7 linked regions of the Homo sapiens genome follow. The protein of the gene in region 5 purifies or fractionates together with the protein of the main gene of each other region. This does not show direct contact. Each region holds a gene or a part of one and is shown on either strand. Other genes may lie near its edges. The genes, in order: ACP6, NFU1, ABAT, HMGCS1, ECI1, HIBCH and CHID1.

Region 1 (3,500 bases), on a different chromosome or scaffold from region 5:
ATCCCAGGAGAATGGTACTGGGAGCCTCAGATTCTCTTGGCATCTAGGGAGCCCTCCATTCTTCCCAAAGGCATGTGTCAGTCCCACTGGCACCTGGTCTCCAACACCTGAACCTCCTTCTGACACATCAGAGGACCAGGTGTTCACAGAGAGGCCTTCTTCCTTCTTTCACAGTTAATCACTGCTCCCTCTTTCTGACCCTCTAACCCCTCTGGATAAAAAAAACCCTTCGAGGGTTCATGGCTCATGTGGCCCCACCTCCTCTCTAGCAGCCCCCTTACCACTTCTTCCCTATTCTACATACTTACTCACTAGCCACGCAACTTCCTTTCCTTTCTCATATTTCATGGCCTTTCAGTATCATGTTTCTTATGCCTGGAATTTTCTCTCCTCATTCATTTAGAAAGACTTTTGTTCATTCCTTAAGACTTAGCTTAAGTGTTCCCAGAAACCTTGGTCATGGCCTTATGCTTTCACAGTAGCTTCAGTGGCTCTCTTTAGTAGCCTTTACCAAAGTGTATTAAACGAGCTCCTTTACTGGTCTGTCCTGGCTTCCTGAGAACAGAGACTCGGTCATCTATTGACTTCTGTTTCCCAGCAAAGGGCCTCACACACAGTAGGTACAATTAATAGCTCCAACAATTTGCCAGCTCCTGTGGAAGATACCCATCTTGAGAAAACTTGACCCTGCCTTTCCTGGGTGTTCAAGTTAGTAAAGAAAAAAGGCCAGCTGTGAATGTAAATGACAGCAATACCATAATAGAAGCTGACATGTGCTGCAAGAAACCATATGAAGGCCATAGCAGTTCAAAGGCAAGACAGACCTTCTCTTCTGGCTGGGGATTCAGGAGAAGTTTCATTGAGGGAATAGCATTTTAAATGAATAGTATTTAGACAAGCAAATACCTGTACTTATAAAGGGTGACATTCAGAATTCCAAAAATAACTAGAAAGCTTGCGCAAAGCAGAGATGGTAAAGAATGTGTATGGCAAAGAAGTGGTTTGGTTTGCCTCAACCTGGGAATGGTTTTCCAATTTTTAAATCAGAAAATACCACATAAAGTTTAACTTTAGATTTGTATGTATAAAGGCAAAAACTCGAATTTCTCTAGTTGAAGTAGGAGGGAATCCCACAGCCCCAGCCGCTCAACATCCTCTTAGCCCACAGGCTCCACAGAATAAATCTGAAACCTGGCAGCATACATCACAATTGGAATGGGAAGACTAGATGCAGAAAAGCCCATTTTGAGATGTTAGCAATAGTCCACATGAGAGCCTAAGGCCTCATCTAAGCCAGTTAACAATAGAGGAGGTAGATGTAAGACATTTGAGTTAGACTTGGCAAGTGAGTAAATAAAAGCTTTATGTGGGGACTGTGTTGGTAGGTAAACACAGAAGAACAAAAAAGAGACTACTTTGATTTTTGAGCCTTGTAATGGAGATATTCCTTGACTAAAACTAAGACCAAGACAGAAAAACAGGTGGAAAGCTGATTTCAGTTTTGGACATTTGGAGACACCTCCTTTGTGTTCCCAGTGCTCCCAGCATATTGCCTTAATTGATATCTGTTGTCTCTGCTTTATCACATTGAAACTCCTTTAAAGGCAAGACTGAATTATCCATCCTTGTAGTTCCAGTGTCCACCACAGGGCCTGACACAAAGCTCCACAGGGCCATTCAGCCTCACTAAGAAATCTGTTAGGCACATTCACCAAGAGAGGACCCTTGGCGTCTCCTAGGAGTCTGGAGTCCAGGTCACGTCAAGTCTAAAGTACAGTTTTCAGATTTTCAAGAATGGATGATACATCAGTTTCATATAATAGTGTCCACCCCACATACACACTCTCATTCTCATTCCTGCTCTTAAGCTTCCCAGTTAGTGGCAAAGACTAACTTGATAATTTTACTTATTTTGTGTATACCCCTCTTCAAGGGGTAATAAAGTAGATATAGCAAAAATTAAAATATAGTAAGACAACCAATTCAAAGTAGGCAAGAAAGACAAAAGCAAACAAATGTAGGGACAAAGAAATGGATGCAGTAACACGGTTACTAAAATATGTACACCATGAAGATCTGTTTACTTACTATAGGTGGGCCACAGACTTGGCACCCAGCTTCCTGACTTTTACATAAAGAAACAAACTTGATCAGCTAGACTAGTTTAAAGAAAAAAGCAAGCCAATTGTTCAGGAGAAGCACACCATTCCTAATGCTAACAGACAAATTCCTCCCAAGGGTCCTCATAAAGAGGATAGAGTAATATAATGAACATCTTTTCAGCAGTCACAGCAATGAGTTCTGTGGGATTGTTTCTCCTAGTTCTCTCAACACAGAAAGATAACCTCTTACCAAAGCACATTTCAGCGAAGGCAATTCTGTACTGGGATTGATATACTACATTCCAGGTAAAAGAACAAATCTACATAAAAGTAAACAAAAACCTCCCAGGTGTAGATTTTAAAATAAAGCAATCATATTAAACCTTGTCTGTATACTGGTATTACCAGGACATTTTTTAAAAGTTACTGATGCCTGAGTCCCAACCTGGGATAACCGCATTTGGATTATCCCCCAAAAAAGTGGGGCCTCCACTTTTTTAATGCTCTTCAGTCCAGATAATTCTCAAGCTTCACCAGAGAGTCTTTTACATTATCTGGATACCCCGGACCAATTAAATTAGAATCCTTCGGAGGGAGACCCTGGCATGTGTATTTTTTAAAGCTTTCCAGTTGACTCCAATGTTCACCACGGTTAAGAACCATCGATCCTGAAGAATGGGTGGACCTCATGTAATGCTTCTTGAATACCGCTTCTTTTAGCTGAGTTTTGGAAAGGTACTAAGCAATAAAAGATTCTTACATTATGCTTCCCAGCTCATCTATATTGTCAAATAAATAGGGACCCAAATGTCTTAATCAACAGTGAAGCTGGGGTAGGTTGGACTTTATTTTATAAAAACTGAGGAATCTCCCTGGGTGGAGGCCATCTTGACACCCAGGGGAGTTGAGGGAAGCCTGGAAGCAGTGCCAAATCTTTTCTTTTGATAGTGCATTTGGATCTGCTCTAATGATCAGGAAAAAAAATGGCCAATCAAGTTCTATATTTTTATTTCCAAAGCACAATCTTTTAGCAAAACAGGTTAAACCAACAGCCATTCAAGCCATAAGAAAACAACCCAATAAAACACTAGTTTTTTGTTTTTGTTTTTGAGATGGAGTCTTGCTCTATCACCCAGGGTAGAGTGCAGTGACCCAATCTTGGCTCACTGCAACCTCCGCCTCCCGGGTTCAAGCAATTCTCCTGCCTCAGCCTCCCGAGTAGCTGGGATTACAGGCGCCCACCACCACACCGGGCTAATTTTTGTATTTTTAGTAGAGATGGGGTTTCACCATTTTGGCCGGGCTGATCTCGAACTCCTGACCTCTTGATCCACCTGCCTCAGCCTCCCAAAGTGCTGGGATTACAGGCATGAGCCACCACACCCAGCCAAAACATCT
Region 2 (3,500 bases), on a different chromosome or scaffold from region 5:
GTTCATATTTTGTATTAAAAAAGTAAAAGTAAAAAAGCCCCAATTAATTCAGTTATAGATTAGTTAGAGATTATTTCTGTCAGATGTTCAGTTGGCAAAATCTCTTTTCAAGTTAGTCTTTTGAAAATAGTCTGTTTAGGCTGGGTGTGGTGGCTCATGCCTGTAATCCCAGCACTTTGGGAGGTGGGTGGATCACCTGAGGTCAGGAGTTGAGACCAGCCTGGGCAACATGGTGAAACCCCATCTCTACTAAAATACAAAAATTAGCTGGGCGTGGTGGTGGGCGCCTGTAATCCCAGCTACTTGGGAGGCTGAGGCAGGAAAATTGCTTGAACCCAGGAGGCGGAGGTTGCAATGAGCCAAGATCTCACCACTGCACTCCAGCCTGGGGGACAGAGGGTGACTCCGTCTCAAAAGAGAAAAAAAAAAAAATAGTCTGTTTAGTGCTCAGTACAGTGCCTGGCACTTAGTAGGTGTCAAATATTGGTTGAATGAATGATTGATAGTATAGATATAGCAGTCTATTCATTCACCAGGTGATGGACATTTCCATATTTTTCTGTATGTGTGGCTATTTTAAATGAAGCTGCTATGAAGATTTATGTACAAGTCTTTGTGGAGCACGAGTTTTTATTTCTTTTGGGTAAATAACTAGGAGTGGGATTGCTAAATCGTAGAGTAGGAATATAAAACAAAATTGGCCATGAGTTGATCATTGTTAAAGCTGCAAAGGATATGTGGAGAATTTTTTACTTTTCTCTACTTTTGTGTATGTTTAAACTTTTCCATAATCAAGCATTTTAATATCTCTTATTTTTTCTTTTTTTGCAGGCAGTTATTTAGGATTGAAGGAGTAAAAAGTGTCTTCTTTGGACCAGATTTCATCACTGTCACAAAGGTAAACATAGGATTATATAAAATAAGACTTGAAATACTCTTCATTTTTTTCTGAGTCCAATGCCTCTCTCTCCAACATTTCCATTCTTTCTGTTCTTTAATTTTTATATTTTATTTTTGAGACAGGGTCTTACTCTCTTGTCCTCTAAATGTCACAAGAATCAAGCGAAATATGCTATGTTTTTCTTTTTCTTTTCTTTTTCTTTTTTTTGAGATGAAGTCTTGCTCTTGTCCCCCAGGCTGGAGTGTGATGGTGCGATCTTGGCTCACTGCCACCTCTGCCTCCCAGGTCCAAGTGATTCTCCTGCCTCGGCGCCCCCCCCCGCCACCCTGAGTAGCTGGGATTGCAGGCGCCTGCCACCATGCCCAGCTAATTTTTATATTTTTAGTAGAGACAGGGTTTCGCCATGTTGGCCAGGCTGGTCTAGAACTCCCGACCTCAGGTGATCCACCCGCCTCGGCCTCCAAATTGCTGGGATTACAGGCGTGAGCCACCACGCCTATAAAAAATATGCTATGTTTTTCAACAGTCAAGGCAGTATCTGCTAGAAAGGGCTGTTCCATTTTTGATGTCTACTAGATTAATGGGACATGAACTATTTAAATTTGAACTATGTATCCTTTTAAATCTGTTAATTGACATATATCCACGGAACTTAAATCACTTGCCTGATAGTGTGTGAAAATCAAAAATATTTATTAAACTCCCCTTAAGCAAATTGAAAGGATTAGTCTGAGCTCTTTATGTCCTTAAAAGTGGACATACTGGGGGCCGGGTGTGGTGGCTCACGCCTGTAATCCCAGCACTTTGGGAGGCCGAGGTGGGCAGATCATGAGGTCAGGAGATCAAAACCATTCTGGCTAACATGGTGAAACCCCGTCTCTACTAAAAATACAAAAAAAAAGTAGCCGGGCATGGTGGCGGGCGCCTGTAGCCCCAGCTACTCAGGAGGCTGAAGCAGGAGAATGGCGTGAACCCGGGAGGCGGAGCTTGCAGTGAGCGGAGATCGGGCCACTGCACTCCAGCCTGGGCGACAGAGCGAGACTGCATCTCAAAAAAGAAAAAAAGGGGACATACTGGGTTAGTGACATGTTAAATCTAGTCATCTAGTCCAGTATTCTCTTGCGGCTATTTATTTAGAGACAAAGTCTCACTCCACACCCAGGTCAGAGTGCAGTGGCATGATCTCAGCTCACTGCAGCCTAAGCCTCTTGAGCTTAAGCAGTCATCTCACCTCAGCCTCCCTAGTAGCTGGGACTATACGTGCATACCACCATGTCCAACTAATTTTTGTATTTTTTGTAGAGATAGGGTTTCGCCATGTTTTCCAGGCTGGTCTCAAATTTCTGAGCTCAAACAATCTGCTCACCTCGGCCTCCCAAAGTGCTGGGATTACCGGTGTGAACCACCACGTCCAGCCCCCCATTCTTCAGTTTTCTTTCTTCCATATTTTTTAAGGAGAAGAAGGGATGAACATTTATTTAATATATTCAATGTCGGATATGGCCCTAGTGCTTTACATATGTTATCTAATTCTTACAACTAGTTATTTTATAAGTGGGAAATTATATATTTATTTTTTAAAGTTATTTAGTTCTTTTACGTATAGCCTATGCTATATAAAAATTTTTATAGGTAAAAATGTGATTATATCTTAAAGGGTTTTGGTTTTTTTTTTTTTCCTATTTTTCTTGATTAGATTTAGTAAGTCATCTTTTAGCTCTCTTACTTTCATTATTTAGTTACCCTATTTGAAATTGCCCTAGCTCTACAATTTTTTCTTAAGTGAAATGACATAACCAATAGATAATATCCCAAGTTAGGGTATATGTTGATACACATATATGTATGTGTGTGTGTATATCTATCTATCTACACATACATATAGATGGGATCTTGCTCTGTTTCCCCAGGCTGGAATACAGTAGTGCGATCATGGGTCACTGCAACCACTAACTCCCAGGCTCAAGCGATCCTGCTGTCTCAGCTTCCCGAGTAGCTGGGACTACAGGTGCATGCCACTATGCCCAGCTAATTTTTTTTTTATTTTTTTTTATTGTAGAGACAGTGTCCTTCTATGTTGCCCAGGCTGGTCTCAAACTCCTGGGCTCATGCAATCCTTCTGTCTCGGCCTCCCAAAATGTTGGGATTACAGGTGTGAGCCACCACGCCTGGCCCACGTTGGTATTTAATAGACGGAATACTGGATTTATTTTGTTTTCTTCCAGTAATGTTTCTCATCATGGACTATCACATTTTACTGAATGTCTTCAGCAATCGCCTGTTTCTATTTCTGATTTCCAGTTGATAATTAGACTTCTTTATGCATCATTTGTGTTATTTTTTTCTAAATATATATGTATATTTGCAGCTTATATGCTGCCCTTTTTTTCTCATTCAGACAACTTTAGAATATTTTTTCTTTTTATTACCAATATTTTCCTATTTAGTAGAGCCTGCTATTTACTGAAGATCTGAGGTAACACTCTGATTTGTTTTCCAAATAATTTATTACCTACAACTAGTTTCCATTCCCAATCACTAAGATATTTCACTAGTTTTACTTTTATAACCTTAGCAGTCCCCATTTATCTCACCTTTT
Region 3 (3,500 bases), 6.5 Mb from region 5:
GCTAAAGTCTCACCACGGCCCCAGTGGGGTCAACAGCATTTAAATCCTTCAGTTTATAGCAGGGTAAACAGAGGCACTTGAGTGGCCCAAGGTTATACAGTGAGAGGGACAGAGCTGGGCTTGGTTGTTGTTGCTGGTGGTGGTGGTGGTGGTTTTTTTCCTCCACACAACACACATGTGCACAGCTGGGCTTTGAACCCAGGCCTGAATGTCCCCAGAGCTCTTAACCCCCTGGAGGTCCTGCCAGTCCATGCAGAGGCCGAGGCTGGACCATGGGAGGCCTTTGACGAAGCACAGCCATTAAGCCCAGCTGGTACACAGGTGATGGGCTTTGACGCCAGCCTTGTCTCCTCCCACTACAGGCCCGGTACCCCCAGTTCATCAGCAGGGTGAGAGGACGAGGCACCTTTTGCTCCTTCGATACTCCCGATGATTCCATACGGAATAAGCTCATTTTAATTGCCAGAAACAAAGGTAAGGGGTCAGGAGTGGCTGCTGAGTTTCATGAGCATCCAGTATCTCCTGCTGTAGCTGCCACATGTTGCTAGGTACTCAGCAATATTTTGTGTGGGGGGCAGGTGGTACACAGGTCTGAAAAGAGCCTGAATGCTCTTTCTCCAAAGAAGAGAACATTACAAATGGGATTTCTTTATCCATTTATTTACTCAACAAGCGTTCGCTGAGGAGGTGAGTTGTAAGTGGACACTGGAGACAGTTACAGTGATGATGAAGACCATCAGAGCCCCTTCCTTCAGGAAGCATGCAGTGTAGCAGGAAGGCATGGCTTTACACATGGCATTTCACAACCAATCCATTGCAATTTTAAGTCCTGGGAAGGAGAAAACGCAGCTAAGAGAGCAGATAGCTGCAGCAGTTGGTGAGGGTAGGAAATCAGGGCAGGCTCCCTTGAGGAAGTAGCATTTTACCCTAAGTCTTGACAAACAGGGATTGGCTGGGTGAAGAAGGTAAGGAAGAGCATTCTGGGCGGAGGGAAGGGTGCATGCGATGGCCTGAGGTGGGATGGAGCTTACAGAGGTGGTAAAAGGGAAAGAAGGGGGCGTGAAGGCGAACGGTTGGGAGGGGATGAAGCTGGGGGAGGAGAGGCCAGGCCCGGGTCGCATGGGCCTGCAGATCAGGCTTAGCACTCCAGACTTCATCCTAGGAGCTGTGGGAAGCCACTGAGGACATGTGTGGCAGGGGTAAGGGCAGACGCTGTGGTGAGATCAGAGCACGTACTCTATGTCAGGCACATTGTCAGTTCTTCTTGTGCCATCTTACAGAATCCTTGCAGCAGCCTCAGAAGGGCAGGGATAATCAACCTCCATTTTAAAAATGAGAAAACGTGGTCTCAAAGGCATAAACAGGCCGGGTGCAGTAGCTCACGCCTGTAATCCCAGCACTTTGGGAGGCCGACGTGGGCAGATCAGCTGAAGTCAGGAGTTCGAGACCAGCCTGGCCAACGGGGCAAAACCTCATCTCTACTGAAAATACAAAAATTAGCTGGCCGTGGTGGCGGCACCTGTGATCCCAGCTACTTGGGAGACTGAGGCAGGAGAATGGCTTGAACCTGGGAGGTGGAGGTTGCAGTGAGTGAGACTGGGTTGCCACTGCACCCCAGCCTGGGTGACAGCGCGAGACTCCATCTCTAAAAAAAAAAAAAAAAAAGGCATAAACAACCTCGACAAGGAAAGGACACCAGCTGTAACTGTGAAGTCACCCTTTAAAATAAGCAGAGCCTGTCCCTCCTCCGTAATAGCTCAGCACCTCACACATGCTTCCGACTCAGCCTGTGCTTTTGCAACTTATTTGCTTACCTATTTTCTTTTCCCACTCCTCCATGACTTTGTGGAAGGCAAGGACTTTATCTCAGGATTTCTCTATCACCAGACCTAGCTTGGGGCAGCAAAGCAGGCACTCAAAGGAGAGAGGGAGGGAGGAAGGGAAAAAGGAAGTGTGGAGGGAAGGAAAGGAAGAAGAGAATGATGGAGGAGATGAATGAGGGGAGAGAGAAAGGAAATGAAGACTGGATGGGTGGGTGGTAGGAAGGAAGCCCGGGCTTCCATGATGGAGGATGATGGATGGATGGATGGATGGATGGATGAGCGTTGCCAACAGGCATCACTTTCCCCCCAGCTCTCCCAGCATGTGACTTTGAGAAACCACGCTCCTCACCTACCTCCTGCCTCTTTCAGGTGTGGTGTTGGGTGGCTGTGGTGACAAATCCATTCGTTTCCGTCCCACGCTGGTCTTCAGGGATCACCACGCTCACCTGTTCCTCAATATTTTCAGTGACATCTTAGCAGACTTCAAGTAAAGAAGCCATTTCCACTACAGTGAGAAAGCCCGGATCCCAACAGTTGTCAAATTGATTAGTTTGCCTAATTCATGTTTTCACTTAAAAGTATCAGAGGTGAATGCACAGTGAAGGGTGATTTGTGGGGAGGGAGCATTTTTGGTGGTCTTGGGGGAGGGGAGGGGAGGGAAGGGCTGGTGTTGATTTTCCTCCCTGCAGAGCCAATGGTGCACATTGGTTTAAGCCCAGAGATCCTGCTTGAGCCCTGGACTCATCTTGGGAAGGGCCATGGGAGGTCCTGGCTAGAGTTCTGCCCAACCTTGACCAACCCCAGCAATTTTTCCAAAAGCCAGTCAAGGGCATTACATTTGTTCCTGGGACTGGCAGCTGGGCCTCCTGGGTGCCAGTCCATCTCAAGTGCCATATTCTGTGATCACGGATGTTGGCTCCCCCTCGCCCTATGCAAGCAAACACACTCTCACCTCCTCTCCCAGCCTCCCGGAGCTCTGAGCACGCCCCACGCATGGTGCAGGAGGGACTGGACAGATCTGAGGAAGGCCGTAAAATGGGGACAGGAGGATTCAGCTCAGGAGTAAGGGAAGAGGTCCTCTGGCCCCCTGAAGATGAGAATCACCCCTCTCAGTGCACCTGGGGATCCCCCTAAACTGTGAATTCTGCCCTGGACAGGGCTTTGCCCTTGGAGGATCCCCAGGTGGCCTTACCCGTGATTCTTACTCGGCATCCTCCATTCCCCAAACTCCCTCCTCCCTGTTAAATGTCAACCTAGACCTGGACCTGGGTGGGAGGAAACTGTAGCCTGAGTGTCCACAGGGACACACGTGAGCCACAGGGCTAGAAGCACAGGCCCGTCACCCCAGGAGGAAAAGCCCAGGGTCTGGGGCAGCAGAGCCATCGCATCATGTTTCCCAGGGCAACTTGAGGTCTGACTTTTGGCTCCCTCGCCCTAAGAGGCTCTTCCTCTCTTTTGCTCATCCACCTTCACACCACTTGTGAGCTGACCCCCAGGAACAGCTTGGCTGTTCCACCAGAGCAGAGGGAATCATTGCTGGACTGGATTTCTTCTGGAGGGAAGCACCATGAATTAAAGGTGCCAGAGCTCCATGCATGGAAAAGTGGCCTGTTGGTTCAACGTGGTTTCCTTGTACTTGATCCTCCTGAAATGAGAGATTTTCCTGAGATGACTGAG
Region 4 (3,500 bases), on a different chromosome or scaffold from region 5:
ACACGGGCAATCCAGGAGGAGAGCCCTGATCGGGAACCAACCACGCTGGCACCCTGACTTCCAGACTGCAAACCTATGAGATCATAAATGTCTGCTGTTTAAACCACCTACTCTATGGTATTTTGCTGTGGCACCTAAGCAGATTAAATAGTCTGGTCACCTCAACTAAGTCCAAGCTCCTTAAGGTCTCCTCATGTCTTAGACTACTGTATGGCCCATTTTACCAGACATAGCATATATACCGCTGCTACTCAATTCCACAATGGAAAGAAAAACTCCTAAACACAACAGTCTACTTCCGAATTATATCCTCTTGATTCCTAAATTACTGGCCATATTTTTGTATTCAATACAGGAAAAACAATGTCATCACCAACATTCAGGGACAGGGGCATAAAGAAAGACTAAGGGAGGCTCATTCTTGTTAAGACCTAAAGCTGAGGAGGGTAAAGATAAGGCTTTTACATTCCTACTCCATTCATCTTCAACTCCTTTCCTGTGTCTACAACTCAGATGGAGGACTACTGATTTTCTGGATATGAAGCACTTGAAATGTTCTACATCCATCCTCACTCTGAGCTTCAACAAACTCTCCCCATCAATTTTTTGATAAAGTTGGTGCCCACTTTGCTGAATTTGAAATGAAAATATAAAAGGGCTGCCTAATATGCCACTAGGCATGGATTCTAAGTTTATAGTAAAATAAGATACTGGATAGTCCACAAGAAAGAGCCCTACAACTACTGTTATCAGAAAAAGACTAGTCCATAGGCTTATAAGCTCCTACATATGATCTCTTAAGTCACCAAAGTAGGAGTAACCACCTTTCCAGCCTTTCCCACAAGGCTACCCTTTAGATTCTTTTCAACTCTTCAAACTGCTTTAAATATGCTGAAGACAGTATGGTCTTCCTTGCCTGGCTCAGTGGTTTTTAACACTATTGGAAATAAAGTGAACAGGGAATATATCTTTTTGAAGGTATAAACCAGTTTGCAATATACTTGTACTCACTAATAAATTCACTTTAGTCTTTTAAGAGCATCATGTAGCAACACTGGCAATATATTTAATTATCCTTATAATGCTTGTACAATTCTCTATAAAAAGTTATAATGCAAGGCTTCCATTTCAGAATTAATCTGTATTTGTCACAGTCTGACCAGCTCTGATCAATTCTTTGTATTATAGTACTCCTAAAATAAGATACAACTCTATGACTCCTAAATGTCCTACATTAAATACATGACATGTTTCATTTGAAAACAAACAAAAAACGTAGGTTAACTAAAATAACCCACATACATCAAATGGAAAGTGAAACACAATTCTGACTTTGATGGAAAAAAACATTTTTACATTGTCCAAGTCAGTCAATATTACTCATTCTCTGAGGGTTTCTGACAGCCAATGTGTTTTCCATTATGTTCTTGGTAAAAAGCCATCTAATCTGAAATATTTAGCCTTTGGTTCAAATTCAGAAAGAGAGTGATTAAGTTGACAGGAAAATTAATACAGAGAAATAATTGCTTTCATGACATTTAGAAGAACAGAAAGTTAATAGTTTCTGGTCTCAAATGTTACTTTTTTTTTTGAGACGGAGTTTCGCTCTTGTTGCCCAGGCTGGAGTGCAATGGTGTGATCTCGGCTCACTGCAACCTCCGCCTCCCAGGTTCAAGCGATTCTACTGCCTCAGCCTCTCAAGTAGCTGGGATTACAGGCGGGTGCCACCACACCCAGCTGATTTTGTATTTTTAATAGAGATGGGGTTTGACCATGTTGGTCAGGCTGGTCTCAAACTCCTGACCTCAAGTGATCCACCCGCCTCGGCCTCCCGAAGTGCTGGGATTACAGGCGTGAGCCACCGTGCCCAGCAAATGTTACTTTTAACTATCCTATTGAGCATGTGCTCTTACATTGTCCTTTCAAATGCTCTCTGAAATAGGCTAGATATAGTTAGATATAAATTAGGGAAAAAAAGACTAGCTACAGGTCTGAGGTGCTCACATTATGGTATTCACTCTTTACCCTACCAGAGAATAGAATATTCTGGTTAATTCACTATTTAAGAATAAAGAGGCCGGGTGTGATGGCTCACACCTGTAATCCCAGCACTTTGGGAGGCCGAGGTGGGCGGATCACTTAAGGTCAGGAGTTCAAGACCAGCCTGGCCAAAATGGTGAAACCCCCTCTCTACTAAAAATACAAAAATTAGCTGGTTTTGGTGGCGGGCAACAGTAATCCCAGCTACTTGGAAGGCTGAGGCAGGAGAATCACTTGAACCTGGGAGACGGAGGTTGCAGTGAGCCAAGATCTGAGCCAAGATCGTGCCACTGCACTCCAGCCTGGGTCACAGAGTGAGACTCCGTCTCAAAAAAAAAAAAAAAAAAATTTAAAAAATTTAAAAAAAGAGATAAATCACAAAAACTTTCAAGTAGAACATAATTTTAAAAATCTGATGGTTAAAAAAATTACGTTTTTAATTTTTTACAGATAATGCATTTTATTATTTTCAGAGTACTATATTCACCATAAAATAAGTCTAAAGAGAATAATGAGGACTCTGTATTTATAATAAAATACACACATTTTCTTTTTAAATTCTATCCTTAAAAAAGGCGAGAAAAGGCAACTTTCAGAGAACTTTGTAAACCTTTCAAGTCTTCCAACAAAGTAGTACCAACAGAGGACTAAAGTCTTAAATAAGTCTCATTAAAGTGAAGGCTCACTCCCTCTGGTGGACAAAAGAAACTCCATATGCTATTTCCAGAATCAGTAAAGCAAGATAAGGAAGCCTTGTTAATGTTTTCTGAATGCTTCCTGCCTAGAATACATAAAAGACCTATATAGTTATTCTGAGAATAAATCTGGAAATGAAAGAGAACTGGAAAGGGGAAAAAAGGGGGAGGGAAACTAGCTGATGATACTGGTGCAAGGGAAGTCCTAACCTAGCTCCTCAATGGCTGTGTTGGGGAAGGACTTCAGCATCAGTCTCTCCTAAGTGAGCTCTGCCTCTGCTCTCTTCTCTGTCATAGGCCAACAGTTTTTTCCAAACTGCATGTCTAACCATTGTCAAGATGCTGCAGGTTGAGCATTCCTAATACAAAAATGCTAAAATCTGAAATGCTCCAAAATCTGAAACTCTCTGAGCACCAACATGATGCTCAAAGGAAATGCTCATTGGAACATTTTGGATTTTGGATTTCCAGATTAGGGCTGCTCAAATGGTATGTTTTCTCAAATATTCCAAGACCCAGAAAAATCCAAAATCTTTAACATTGCTGGTCCCAAGCATTGTTCAGATAAGGAAAATTCAATTTATATTTCAAACTGCCAAGTTTCTCCTCTATTATTTAGGCTTAGCCTCTCTGCATTAAACAAGGAGCTTTTGGAGAGCAGGAACCGTGCTTTGTTCATTTTTGTGTCCCCGGTACCCAACCCACTGTTTGGCATATGGTAGATGCTAATGTTGAATAAATGAAATGGTACTAGACTTCTAATCT
Region 5 (3,963 bases):
GGCGCAATATTGGCTCACTACAACCTCTGCCTCCTGGGTTCAAGTGATTTTCCTGCCTCAGCCTCCTGAGTAGCTGGAATTACAGGCACCTGCCACCATGCCCAGCTAATTTTTTGTATTTCTAGTAGAGACGGCGTTTCATCATATTGGCCCGGCTGGTCTCAAACTCCTGACCTCATGATTTGCCCACCTTGGCCCCCAAAGTGCTGGGATTACAGGCATGAGCCACCGCGCCCAGCAGCAGGAGCTAATTTTTAAGAATTTTTTGTAGCAACAAGTTGTTGCTATGTTACCCAGCTGGTCCTGAGTCACTGGGGTTACAGGTGTGTGTCACCATGCCAGGCTTGCTTCCTCCTCCGTTAAGTGGCCATTTTTCCACCTCAAAAATTGGTTTGGGACACAAGGAAGAATTGGAAATGCTTAAGATGAGAACAAAAGTTGAGACCACCCAACACAGCTGGGACCTTACTGCCCAGTGCTCCCAGTGGTCTGACCAAAACCCCACACCAGACAGTACAAAGGCCCACTCCCGAGCTGCCGCTTACGGCCCAGCGGGAACAGACTGTATTCTTATCTTTCGGCATTTCTCTGCAAATAAAAAGGTGCCACTGCGGTCCGGCCTTTGTGCACTTGCCCTTGTGCTGAGCAAGGCGGGTGGCCTGTTCTTACCGCTGGGTTCTGCTGCCCCCACCCCCATTTCGGTGACTAAACCTGCAGCTCTGATCCTGTTCCCAAAGGGGCAGGAGGCCGGGCTCACCCCAGGCAGCCCCTGGCCTCCCTGACGGCCCCCTCGGGAGGGGTTCCGTGCTTTGATCGCCTTTCCAGCGCCGATACTGCAGTAGCTGGGCCCGGCCGAGAGCTCGCGGTCACGAACACCGGCAGCCTCTTGCCTACAGTGTCCCGCGCTGTAGAAGAGCCTGCCCTGGCGCTGAGCTGGTCGTGGCTGCTTCAGCAGTGGGCCTGCGCCTCCTTGTAGGCCAGCCCTGGCCCAGATCCAGGTGCCTGCCCCGGAAGCGCGCGGCTGCCCGGGGTGAAGCCGGAGGGCGGCGAGCGGCTGTTTCGGCCGGTAGGTGGAGGCGTTGACCAGCCTCTGGGAACGGGGCGGGACCTAGTTGGGGGGGCTCCGCCCCCTCCCCAGGAGGCGAGCTCAGCCCGCGACCTTTATCCCGCGCGTTGCGGTCAAGATGGCGCTGGTGGCTTCTGTGCGAGTCCCGGCGCGCGTTCTGCTCCGCGCGGGTGCGAAACCCGGGGTGGGCAGGGATCGGGCCGGGGCCGGGGCCAGGACCGGGAACTAACGGGCTCCCCCACGCTGCCTTCGCAGGGGCCCGGCTCCCGGGCGCGGCCCTCGGGCGGACGGAGCGGGCGGCCGGCGGCGGAGACGGCGCGCGGCGCTTCGGGAGCCAGCGGGTGCTGGTGGAGCCGGACGCGGGCGCAGGTGAGCGGGCGGCGCCGAGGGAGGGCGGGCGTGGGGTCAGGACCCGCGGGGGTCCGCGCTCGCGGGGTGCTGTCGGAGAACCACGTCTGTCGACGCTCGGTTTGTGTTTAGAACCCAAGTTTCGAAACAGAACCTTGCCGCTCTACCTGGGTTCGTTCGTCATGAGATAAAAGTTTCTGTTTTTAAAGTTGGCGGAGGCCGGGCGCGGTGGCTCACGCCTGTAATCCTAGCACTTTAAGAGGCAGAGGCGGGCGGATCACCTGAGGTCAGGAGTTCGAGATCAGCCTGGCCAACATGATGAAACCCTATCTGTACTGAAAAATACAAAAGAAAAAAATTAGCTGGGCGTGGTGGTGCGTGCCTATGCCTGGGAGGCTGAGGCAGAAGAATCGCTGGAATCTGGGAGGTGGAGGCTGCAGTGAGCCGAGATTGTGCCACTGCACTCCAGCTTGGGCCACAGAGCAAGATTCCGTCTCAAAATAAATAAATAAATAAAAATAAAGTTGGCGGGGATATGAGCTGTTATCTAAGTTATTCAATTGGAAGTGGAAAAGAATTGGAATCTTTTGGAATAAAATTACGTTTGTTAACACTCCCATGTGGCACAGAACCTCGTACCTACCCGCCCGTCAGAACCCTTGGTAAAACCCACTGGAAAGGATAGAAAAAGTACTTTTGGAAGAGAAGCCTGTGCGCTCCCTCCAGACAGGAGGCCGAGCTGAGGGCACCGAGAGGGCACGCCTAGGCGCCAGCAGTTCTGCTTCCAGGACATGCTGACCTGGACCTCCCGGTGCAGCAGTCCCTGCTGTGGCTCCTGAGAGGAGGCCCTCCCCCTCCGCAAGTAAGTCACAGCCCCTGCCCTCCCCAACCCCCCAGACTCAGGGCTGTGCCCAACTTTGCACAGCTTCAGGACTCCAGGCTCCTGGTGCCTCTGAACTTGGTTCCGTCCTCTCTGTCTGGGCTGAGGGAGCTGCCTGGGCTCTCTCTACAAACTTGAGAGGGACAAACTAAGACCAACTTCAAACTGACTTTTTTTTTTTTTTTTTTTTTTTTTGGAGATGTAGTCTTGCTCTCCAGTCGCCAGACTGGAGTGCAGTGGCGCAATCTCCGATCACTGCAACCTGTGCCTCCTGGGTTCAAGCGATTCTCCCTCCTCAGCCTCCCAAATAGCTGGGATTACAGGGACCCACCACTATGCCCACTAATTTTTGTAAAAACTGAGTTTCTGAAGGGATCATTTCTGTAGCATATTTGAATATATCTCAACAAAATGCAAAAAAAAAAATTATTATTTTTTTTTTTTTGAGACAGAGGCTCCCTCTGTCACCCAGGCTGGCGTGCAATGGCGCGGTTCCGGCTCACTGCAATCTCAGTCAGGCCTGACTTTCTGACTCCAAACTCTACTTTGTCTTTTTTTTTTTTTTTTTTTTTTTTTTTTTGAGACGGAGTCTTGCTCTGTCGCCAGGCTGGAGTGCAGTGGCACGATCTCCGCTCACTGCAAGCTCCGCCTCCCGGGTTCACACCATTCTTCTACCTCAGCCGCCCAAGTAGCTGGGACTACAGGCGCCCGCCACCACGCCCGGCTAATTTTTTTTTTTTGGTATTTTTAGTGGAGACGGGGTTTCACCATGTTAGCCAGGATGGTCTTGATCTCCTGACCTCGTGATCCACCCGCCTCGGCCTCCCAAAGTGCTGGGATTACAGGCGTGAGCCACCGCGCCCGGCTTACGTTGTCTTTTTATATGGTAAAGTGGGGAGGCACTCGAGTAAAAAAATTGTCATTGTACGAACACTTTTCCTTTTTTACCGGAGGTAATGTGTGTGTGTGTGTACATAAAAATCTTTAAAATATGCCTCACATTTACCATTCTAGCCATTTTGCAATGTACAACCCCGTGGCCGTAAGTATATTCACAATGTGTAGTCCACACTACCCATTCCAATACCTTAAGATAACATGTTTTTGAGTCCGGGCCCGGTGGCTCCCACCTGTAATCCCAGCACTTTGGGAGGCCAGGGTGCGCGGATCACGAGGTCAGGAGATTGAGACCATTCTGGCTAACACGGTGAAACCCCATCTCTACTAAAAAATACAAAAAAAAATTAGCCGGGCGTGGTGGCGGGCACCTGTAGTCCCAGCTACTTGGGAGGCTGAGGCAGGAGAATGGTGTGAACCCCGGAGGTGGAGCTTGCAGTAAGCCGAGATCGCGCCACTGCACTCCAGCCTGGGCAACAGAGCAAGAATCTGTCTCAAAAATAAATTAATTAATTAAATAAAATAAATAAATAAATAAATAGGAATGACAACCACATGGATGAACCTTGAACACATGATACTAAGTGGACAAAGCCGACAACAAAGCCCGGCGGTATCCCAGTGATATGGAATATGGCTGGAGCAGGAAAACCGCAGACACAGAACGCAGACTGGCGGCTTCCAGGGGCTAGGGGTGGGATGAGGAGCAACTGCTCATGGGGACAGGGATTCCTTTTGGGACAATGAAAAGGTTCTGGAACTAGGCAGCGGC
Region 6 (3,500 bases), on a different chromosome or scaffold from region 5:
TGCTAGATTTTTTAATGCATTATTGTGATGGTTAATATTGACTGTCAACGTGATTGGATTGAAGGATGAAAAGTATTTTTCCTGGGTATGTCTGTGCAGGTATTGCCAAAGGAGATTAACATTCAAGTCGGTGGACTGGGAGAGGCAGACCCACCCTCAGTCTGAGTGGGCACCATCTAATCAGCTTCCAGAGTGGCTAGAATAAAAGCAGGCAGAAGTTGGAAGGACTTGACTTGCTGAGTCTTCCAGCCTTCATCTTTCTCCGGCACTGGATGCTTCCTGCCTTCAAACATCAGCTTCCAAGTTCTTCAGCTTTTGAACTCTTGGACTTATACCAGTGGTTTGCCAGAGGCTCTTGGGCCTTTGGCCACAGACTGGAGGCTGCACTGTCAGCTTCCTAACTTGTGAGGTTTTGGGACTCAGACTGATCCATCACTGGCTTCCTTGCTCCTCAATTTGCGGACGGCCTATCATGGGACTTTATCTTGTGATCATGTGAGTCAATTCTCCTTAATAAACTCCCTTTCATATATACATATGTCCTATAAGTTCTGTCCTTCTAGAGAACACTGATTAATACAATTATCTTATTTATCATTTATAAGCACTCTAAGGTAGATATTATTATTATTCTCACTTTATACATATCAAAAGGGAAGCTGTAAGAGACCAAGTAATCCACCCAAGATTAAGTAGTGAACCCATTATTTAAACTCAGGCATTCTGACTTGTAAGAACCATGGTTTTAACCATAATCTTATGCCACCTCCTACAAGGTGCGTGTGCCATGTCTTGACACTCAGTTGAGAACCATGATGTACCTAAGGTCAAGGAAATCTGCCATACCAGTATTTCTCTACTTCTCTAACAATGACATTTTAAGTTACACATACAAATAATGCCAGCAAAACAAACACAATAACTTACCAAATGGTGCAGTATGGTATTAGTCCTTTTGAATGCATTAAACCTGAAACAAATGTGGAAAACAATGAGAACAGTAATGTGGGTAGTCATGTCTCAGTTGACAAATAGTATATCACCTTTTGTTTCAGCCTCTTCTAAAAGGTATTACCAGAACAAAAAGTTTTAAAAGGTTTAGCTCTCATTCACTGCTGGTAGGAACATTAAATGGTACAGCCACTTTGCACATGAATTTTATGGTAACTTTATTCATAACTGCCAAAATGTGGACGTAACCAAGATGTTCTTCAATGGTTGGAAGACAAACCAATTTCAATACAACCATATAAAATATTATTCAGCCATGAAAAAAAGAAAAGAGCTATTATGCCACAAAAAAAATTGGACGAAACTTAAATGCATACATACTACTAAGCAAAAGAAGCCAGTCTGAAAAGGCTACATACTCTCATTTCAACTGTATGATATTCTGAAAAGGGCAAAATTATGAAATCAGTAGAAAGATCAATGGTTGCCAGGGGTTTGGGGGACGGAAGGAGGGATGAACAGTTGAAACACAGGAGATGTTTAGGGCAGTGAAACTAATCTGTATGATACTGTAATGGTTGATACATGTCCTTATTATTTGTCAAACTTTTCTGCTCAAATTTGCAGGTCATTTTTTCCATCAACTTATAACTACTCTAAAAAATAAAGTCATTAATCTTAAGAAAAAAGGTTTGTTAAAGATGCAATACAAACAGCATTCTCAGACACTAGAGAGAGGTATAAATTGGTACTGCCTTTCCGGTAAACAGTCTGGAAATACAAATCCACAGCCTTTAAAATGATCACACCCTTCAATCCACTAATTCCGCAAGCATTTGCACTAGGGAAATCTCAGAAATATGACCAAAGTCTGATTGATAAATATGTTCACATTATTTACAGGATGGAAAAACTGAAAACAAAGTAAATGTCTAAGAGTAGAGCATTATTTTAAAGACTGTGTCTATTAATACAGCCATTACACAACCACTAAAAATACTAACATGGAAAAGTAGTGACAAATCACAAAAGGAGAGCAGGCTACAAAACAATAAACACAACACACTTCTATTTTTTGCTGTCTTAAAAGTGCTTGTTGGGCTAGGAATACAAAGCCTGAGACACAGCTTGACCAAAGTGACCACTAATAATGGACATGAGAATGGTGAGGGTGGGGGCACCTGGGAAGGGGCATGAACAAACACGGAATGTTGGAAATTGTCTCTATCCCAATGCTGATTACAGGACTGCAGGTATAAGTTCACTAAGCTATAAACTTCAGAACGGTGTACTCAAGTGCCTTATGTAAATTATAATAAGAAAGTAAAAGACAACACCGGGAACGGCAGTGATTGAGAGAGGCATGAGGAGGGCCTCTGGAATGCTTGTTTCTCGATCCAGGTGCTGGTGATTTAGGTATGTTTCATTTGTGAAAATTCATCAAGTTGTATCATTATGCTTTGGGCTTTTTAAAAAATGTCCTAAAAGACATAGCTCTTGCACTCGAGAAACCCACAACGTAATGACAGATGTGCAAATAAAAACACTATAGTTAGAATATACTAAGATGCATGCTTTTTGTTTAAGAAGCTAAATTTAAGATCTATGGAAAGAGGTCAAAGCTAGAATCAGTAGCTGCAGCAGCCTGATAAGGGCTGTGCACATGTGCAGATACATATACCAACTAATGGAACTGATAAACTGACAATCTGTTAATTTTTCAAGAATACTCTGAGATTATATGAAGACCAACAGCCTGAGGTTTCACAAAAGGCAATATCACCAGTTACCACTTGTAACAACTTGGATGACTGAATTTATAAAAATATTTGTAATCCAACTTGCCTTTCAGAATTTATATGACTTTTTTATATTACATTCAAATTGAATAATACTATACAAAAGAGAGAAACAACCTATTTGTTTAAGTCAGTTATAATTCACATTCCTGAACTAGCATTTTCTGAATTTGTCTCACAAGTAAAATGTAGCCCAGTAATTCCAAGACTGGTCTGTACATTAGAATCACCTGGAGACTCGGCTGGGCATGGTGACTCATGCCTGTAATCCCAGCACTTTGGGAGGCCAAGGCAGGCGGATCACCTGAGGTCAGGAGTTTCAGACCAGCCTGGCCAACAAGGCGAAACCCCGTTTCCACTAAAAGTACAAAAATTAGCCAGGCATGGTGGTGGGCGCCTGTAATCCCAGCTACTCAGGAGGCTGAGGCAGGAGAATAGCTTAAACCTGGGAGGCAGAGTGTAGAAAGTAAAAAGTTTCCTCTTCAAAGTTTTTCTTCCTGTTAAAGAATAAATCATAACTGTTAGAAATAATAATTTCTTTTAAAGACTAACTTTCTTCATGCCTCCTTGCTTTGTGCTAGTAACTCTTTGTTAAGCCCTATCCTACGTAACTATTGGACATGCTCACGGGCATGTTCGAGCTCACAGCCTATTCCCCTTATTTAAAAATGTTATTGCTTCCTTAAACCTTTCATAAGCAACTTCTTTGTTCTTCCCTACACTTACCTATTTAGGCTATTAGCATATTGG
Region 7 (4,247 bases), on a different chromosome or scaffold from region 5:
CTCCTGGTGCAGACTGAGGAGACTGTGGCTACCCCCAGGCAGGGAGTTTGCATGCTTTGGTACCCAATACACCCACAACACACCTGCATAGAAAGAACACGCTCCTGGAGCAAGATCAACCAGTGAAGCTCCCCCACCTAGGAGGCAGGGAGCCACAAGACAGCCTGACCTGCAGGCTTATGGGGAGTTAGGAAGGGAACTCACAGGGCAAGCACAGCAGCACCCAGTACATGGAGCCACAGGCAAAGGCAGTGAGTGCTTGAACAGCCACGGCAGTTCCGAGAGGCTGTGCAGGGGGAATAAGAAGGCCCAGGCACAGATCACCACCCTCTGCCCCGATCAACCTCTCCAGCCCCTCTCCTCAGTGATACATCCCAGAATCAGAACCAAGGGCAGCAGCCTGCTGCCACCTCCCCTTAGCCCCACTATCTTTCTGCTGCAGCTGAGGCTTGGTCTGAGTCAGCAACAGCCCCAGGGAAGGTGGGGAGGGTTCTGGCCATGGCACAGGGAAGACGGCCCAGAATCACTTGCCTGGCCAGGCTGAAACGGTGGCTGCCTCAGCTCCCAGGCACCCAGTCTTTGACCCCAGCCCATTCCATGACCACTGGCTCCTTCTCTGTCTTCTGGGTGGAAATCTGGGTCAGGGAGGAAGGAAAGGAATGAAAAACCAAACGGTGGTTCTCCAGGGGACTGGCCCAGGAGTAACTGGAGGGCACACTCAGGTACCCAGTGACCAACCACTATAGGGCTGGGTCTCTGCCCCTACCTGCCGTCCTGCAGATTTGAAACAGGGCCACTGTCCACCCACCTAGTGGCCCCTCTGCCTATGACCTCCCTGCCCCCCAACCTGTGATTTCACACTTCAGGGAAGGAAGAGGAAAGGGTGGAAGAGGAAGACAGTCCTGCCAGCATGTGTCCAGCAGAGGGGACACTAGGAGAACCTAACTGAACACAAGGCCAGGGTACTGCCTCTGTCCACTCGCGCTTAACTTGCCCGCTCTGTGATGGAGTGCTTGGATACAGGCTGCTCACAAATGCTGGGCTGCTTCTTTGACTTGCCATGGAACTTTCCAGACAACTGCCCCAGGGAGATGGTGTGTGTGATGTGTGAGGGGTGCTCACACTGCAACCAGGCCCTTGTCTGGGCTTTGGTACCTCTCCCGCTCCCCACTGCTCACCGGCCGCTCGGCTCTGAGGCCCGTGAGGACACTCTCCATCATGCTCTTCACATAACACAGACTCCCAGGTTCACACACACTGTGTTCCTGCATCAAACCGTTTCTTCCCCAAATGCCAATGACCTTCCCTTGGGCAGAACGGCCCCGCACACAAAGGGAATGTGTTGTGTTATGAAGAGGCACAGGCCCCGACCCTGGTCACCCAAAGGGGTCCCAGAAACCGCTCTGTAACAAGATAAGGTGGAGCGCTACTGCTCCCACTTTCCTGCGCTCCCAGTCCGTAGGTCCAGGACCTCCTCGGTGGTGTTGATGGAAATGATGGGAGTCACAGCAGGGGCTTTCCAATGCTTTTCATGGAGACCAGCAGTAAGAAATGCACTTTACGTCACAGCCCAGCACACGTGTATGTCATGTGTGCACATGTGTTGTGCATGTGTGTACATGTGTAGAGCGACAGCAGCCAATCAGAGCTAACTCTATTCTGCGATGGACGCACTGACAACTCCTGTTCTGTTGTGTTTTGAAGAACTAACTGGTGCATGGCGGCTCTGGCCTGTGATCCTAGCACTTTGGGAGGCCAGGAGTTTTTGACTGGTTTTGGCAACACAGCCAGACCTGGTCTCTACAAAAAATATTTTTCTGCCGGGCAGATCACCCCATCAGGAGTTCAAGACCAGCCTGGCCAACGTGATGAAACCCAGTCTCTAAAAAAGATACAAAAATTAGCTGGGTGCAGTGGTGTGCGCCTGTACTCCCAGCAACTCGGGAGACTGAGGCAGGAAAATCCCTTAAGCCCAGAAGCGGAGGTTGCAGTGAACCGAGATCGCGCCACTGCACTCCAGCCTGGGTGACAGCGTGAGACTCTGTCTCAAAAAAAAAAAAAAATTCTTAGCTGAGTGCGCTGGCGCACACCTGTAGTCCCAAGTAGCTAGGAGGCTAAGAGATTACTAGAGCCCAGGAAGTCGAGGCGGACGGGCGGGCGGGTCACCCTCCAGTTTGGACAGTCAGCAATGGAAGCTTCAAGGGTTGGGGCTGAACCAAGGGTGGGTGGGATCGCGTCTGATGCGCCCACCCTTCACGGGGACCGCGTGCCCCTCACTGGGAGGGCAGCCCGCCTGGAGCCCTACTGCCTCTGCTCCCTCTGGGGGTCCTGGGGACCCGATGGCCACCACTCTGCCACACGAGCCGCGCGCTCACACACTCCTCACCCGCCGGCCACATCCCTTGTCTGCGCACTCAGGCCCCTTCCACCCAGCGCGCCTAGCTCTCAGGCTTGCTCGCCCCAGCGCACGCGCTCCACCTCCCACTCGCGGTCCCCCCGACACGCGCCCCCGTCCACACTCGCCCTCCACCCCCGCTCTCGCTCACCCTCGCTCTCATAGCAACCCTCTCTCACCCTCGTCCTCACACCCTCTCACACGCCCCCTCACACACTTGCTCTCTCTCACGCACCCGCCCGGCGTCGCCCGCGACCCCACGCCCGTCCTCCCGGGGCCGAGCCTCGCTGCCCGGCGCGCCCACTTTGCGGGAGGGAAACTGAGGCCGTGCAAGGAGGAGGAGCAGGGGCCGGCCGCCGCGGGGCTCACCTGCATGTCAGGGAGGCCGGACGGCCACAAACGCACGGCCGGAAAACGCTCCAGCGCGCCGGAAGTCCCGCCCCAGGCGCCCGCGCGCCGCCGCCGCGCACGGCACGCTGGGATGGAGAGGGGCTGGGCCAGGACAGGGGACTGGGCAGGGCTGCCCGAAAGTCGGGGCCGGGGCCGGGGCCGGGGCCGGGGCGGGGCCGCGCCGGGGGCGGACCCCGGGCCCGGCGCGTTCACCTTGAGCGCCCCTGGTGCTCGCGCTGGAGCTGGTTATCAGGTTCCCGGCCCAGGGGTAGCCGGGTTCCCAGCGCCACGGCTCTTAGGCAGGCCTGGCGCCCTTGGCGTGGGGCCGCGCGGGGCCTTGGGCTCCAGGGCCTCTGCCCGGCTCGGCGGTGCCGGGAGAACCGCGCGGTGGGCTCCGCCCCGGCACGCTCCCCCGGGGACCCGGAGTCACCACTCCTGGCGTCCCCCCGACCCCCGCCTGAGTGGACCATCTCCATCCCCAGGCCGATGGCGCCCACTGCGCTGTCTCCAGCGGGGACTGCCCGAAACGCGCGCTCTCTCGGTCCGCACCCCCGCCTTGCACATTGCACGAGCCGGAGCCCCAGGAGGCAAACCAAGTTCCCAACTCAGCCCCTCGCGCTTGGATGAACGAGCGCGTGGCCAGCACTTTTGAGTCACCGCGCATTCTACGCGGCACAGGCTGTCCGACCCCCACCCCCAGCCCTAGCCGTTCCCAGCGCAGTTTCCTACAGAAAACCGCACGGCCGGGCCCCACCCTGCCCCGCTCAGCCGTTCCCGGGGCGCGCGTGGGCTCCAAGACACCCTGCACAGCTGCTTCTCCATTTCTGCTGCTTGGGAGCTTTCTCCTTAAACTAAGCTTTGTCTTTCTTTCTAGTCACGTTTCCTTCTTTCCCTTCCCGGTATTTTCTGCCAGCTGACGCCCACGCCTTTCCTAGAAGGGGCTGGGGGCTGCATGCGGTGCGAGGCACGTCCCCCACCAGCTGTGGGCTCTTACTCAGCTTAGCACTCGCTCTCAGCAAACGGCCTGGATGGTGGCCTGAAGCCTGACCTTTGGGGGTGAAGACCTCAAGTCGGCAGAGCTCTGGAGAGGGTCCCAGTAAGCTATGGCAGGTGTCCTCAGGGACATATGCGCAGTCCTCCCAATGCTAAGGAGGCCATGGCAACATCCAACTTCTCTTAGGAAAGGCACTTAGCCATTTTAGGATCTCATTGAGGTCAGAGGTCTTTGGCGCTAAAGAATTGCAGAATCGATCGGGCAGCCGCCGCCTTTAATCCTAGCACTTTGGGAGGCCAAGGCGGGTAGATCACTTGAGGTCAGGCGTTCGACACCAGCCTGGCCAACATGGTGGAACCCTGTCTCTACTAAAAATACAGAAATTAGGCGTGGTGGCGCATGCCTGTAATCCCAGCTCCTGGGGAGGCTGGGGCAGGAGAATTACTTGAACCTGGGAGGCTGAAGTTG

Evidence for each region.
Region 1: the proteins of ECI1 (region 5) and ACP6 fractionate together in Homo sapiens (co-fractionation; one large-scale study listed by BioGRID). This does not show direct contact.
Region 2: the proteins of ECI1 (region 5) and NFU1 fractionate together in Homo sapiens (co-fractionation; one large-scale study listed by BioGRID). This does not show direct contact.
Region 3: the proteins of ECI1 (region 5) and ABAT fractionate together in Homo sapiens (co-fractionation; one large-scale study listed by BioGRID). This does not show direct contact.
Region 4: the proteins of ECI1 (region 5) and HMGCS1 fractionate together in Homo sapiens (co-fractionation; one large-scale study listed by BioGRID). This does not show direct contact.
Region 6: the proteins of ECI1 (region 5) and HIBCH fractionate together in Homo sapiens (co-fractionation; one large-scale study listed by BioGRID). This does not show direct contact.
Region 7: the proteins of ECI1 (region 5) and CHID1 fractionate together in Homo sapiens (co-fractionation; one large-scale study listed by BioGRID). This does not show direct contact.

What each region holds. Positions count from the first base shown.
Region 1 is NC_000001.11:147,664,025-147,667,524, forward strand, and holds part of ACP6 (lysophosphatidic acid phosphatase type 6), read right to left. Parts: intron 1-3,500. UniProt on the Homo sapiens protein: Hydrolyzes lysophosphatidic acid (LPA) containing a medium length fatty acid chain to the corresponding monoacylglycerol.
Region 2 is NC_000002.12:69,416,936-69,420,435, reverse strand, and holds part of NFU1 (NFU1 iron-sulfur cluster scaffold homolog, mitochondrial), read left to right. Parts: intron 1-831; coding exon 832-898; intron 899-3,500. UniProt on the Homo sapiens protein: Iron-sulfur cluster scaffold protein which can assemble [4Fe-4S] clusters and deliver them to target proteins.
Region 3 is NC_000016.10:8,779,117-8,782,616, forward strand, and holds part of ABAT (4-aminobutyrate aminotransferase, mitochondrial isoform 1 precursor), read left to right. Parts: intron 1-362; coding exon 363-474; intron 475-2,133; coding exon of another isoform or gene 2,134-2,192; coding exon 2,193-2,314; 3' UTR 2,315-3,500. UniProt on the Homo sapiens protein: Catalyzes the conversion of gamma-aminobutyrate and L-beta-aminoisobutyrate to succinate semialdehyde and methylmalonate semialdehyde, respectively. Can also convert delta-aminovalerate and beta-alanine.
Region 4 is NC_000005.10:43,303,413-43,306,912, forward strand, and holds part of HMGCS1 (hydroxymethylglutaryl-CoA synthase, cytoplasmic), read right to left. Parts: intron 1-3,500. UniProt on the Homo sapiens protein: Catalyzes the condensation of acetyl-CoA with acetoacetyl-CoA to form HMG-CoA, which is converted by HMG-CoA reductase (HMGCR) into mevalonate, a precursor for cholesterol synthesis.
Region 5 is NC_000016.10:2,248,788-2,252,750, reverse strand, and holds the start of ECI1 (enoyl-CoA delta isomerase 1, mitochondrial isoform 1 precursor), read left to right. Parts: upstream 1-1,163; 5' UTR 1,164-1,184; coding exon 1,185-1,236; intron 1,237-1,321; coding exon 1,322-1,435; intron 1,436-3,963. UniProt on the Homo sapiens protein: Key enzyme of fatty acid beta-oxidation. Able to isomerize both 3-cis (3Z) and 3-trans (3E) double bonds into the 2-trans (2E) form in a range of enoyl-CoA species, with a preference for (3Z)-enoyl-CoAs over (3E)-enoyl-CoAs.
Region 6 is NC_000002.12:190,309,827-190,313,326, forward strand, and holds part of HIBCH (3-hydroxyisobutyryl-CoA hydrolase, mitochondrial isoform 1 precursor), read right to left. Parts: intron 971-3,500; coding exon 928-970; intron 1-927. UniProt on the Homo sapiens protein: Hydrolyzes 3-hydroxyisobutyryl-CoA (HIBYL-CoA), a saline catabolite. Has high activity toward isobutyryl-CoA. Could be an isobutyryl-CoA dehydrogenase that functions in valine catabolism. Also hydrolyzes 3-hydroxypropanoyl-CoA.
Region 7 is NC_000011.10:908,011-912,257, forward strand, and holds the start of CHID1 (chitinase domain-containing protein 1 isoform a precursor), read right to left. Parts: upstream 2,801-4,247; 5' UTR 2,765-2,800; exon of another isoform or gene 2,631-2,764; intron 636-2,630; exon of another isoform or gene 532-635; intron 1-531.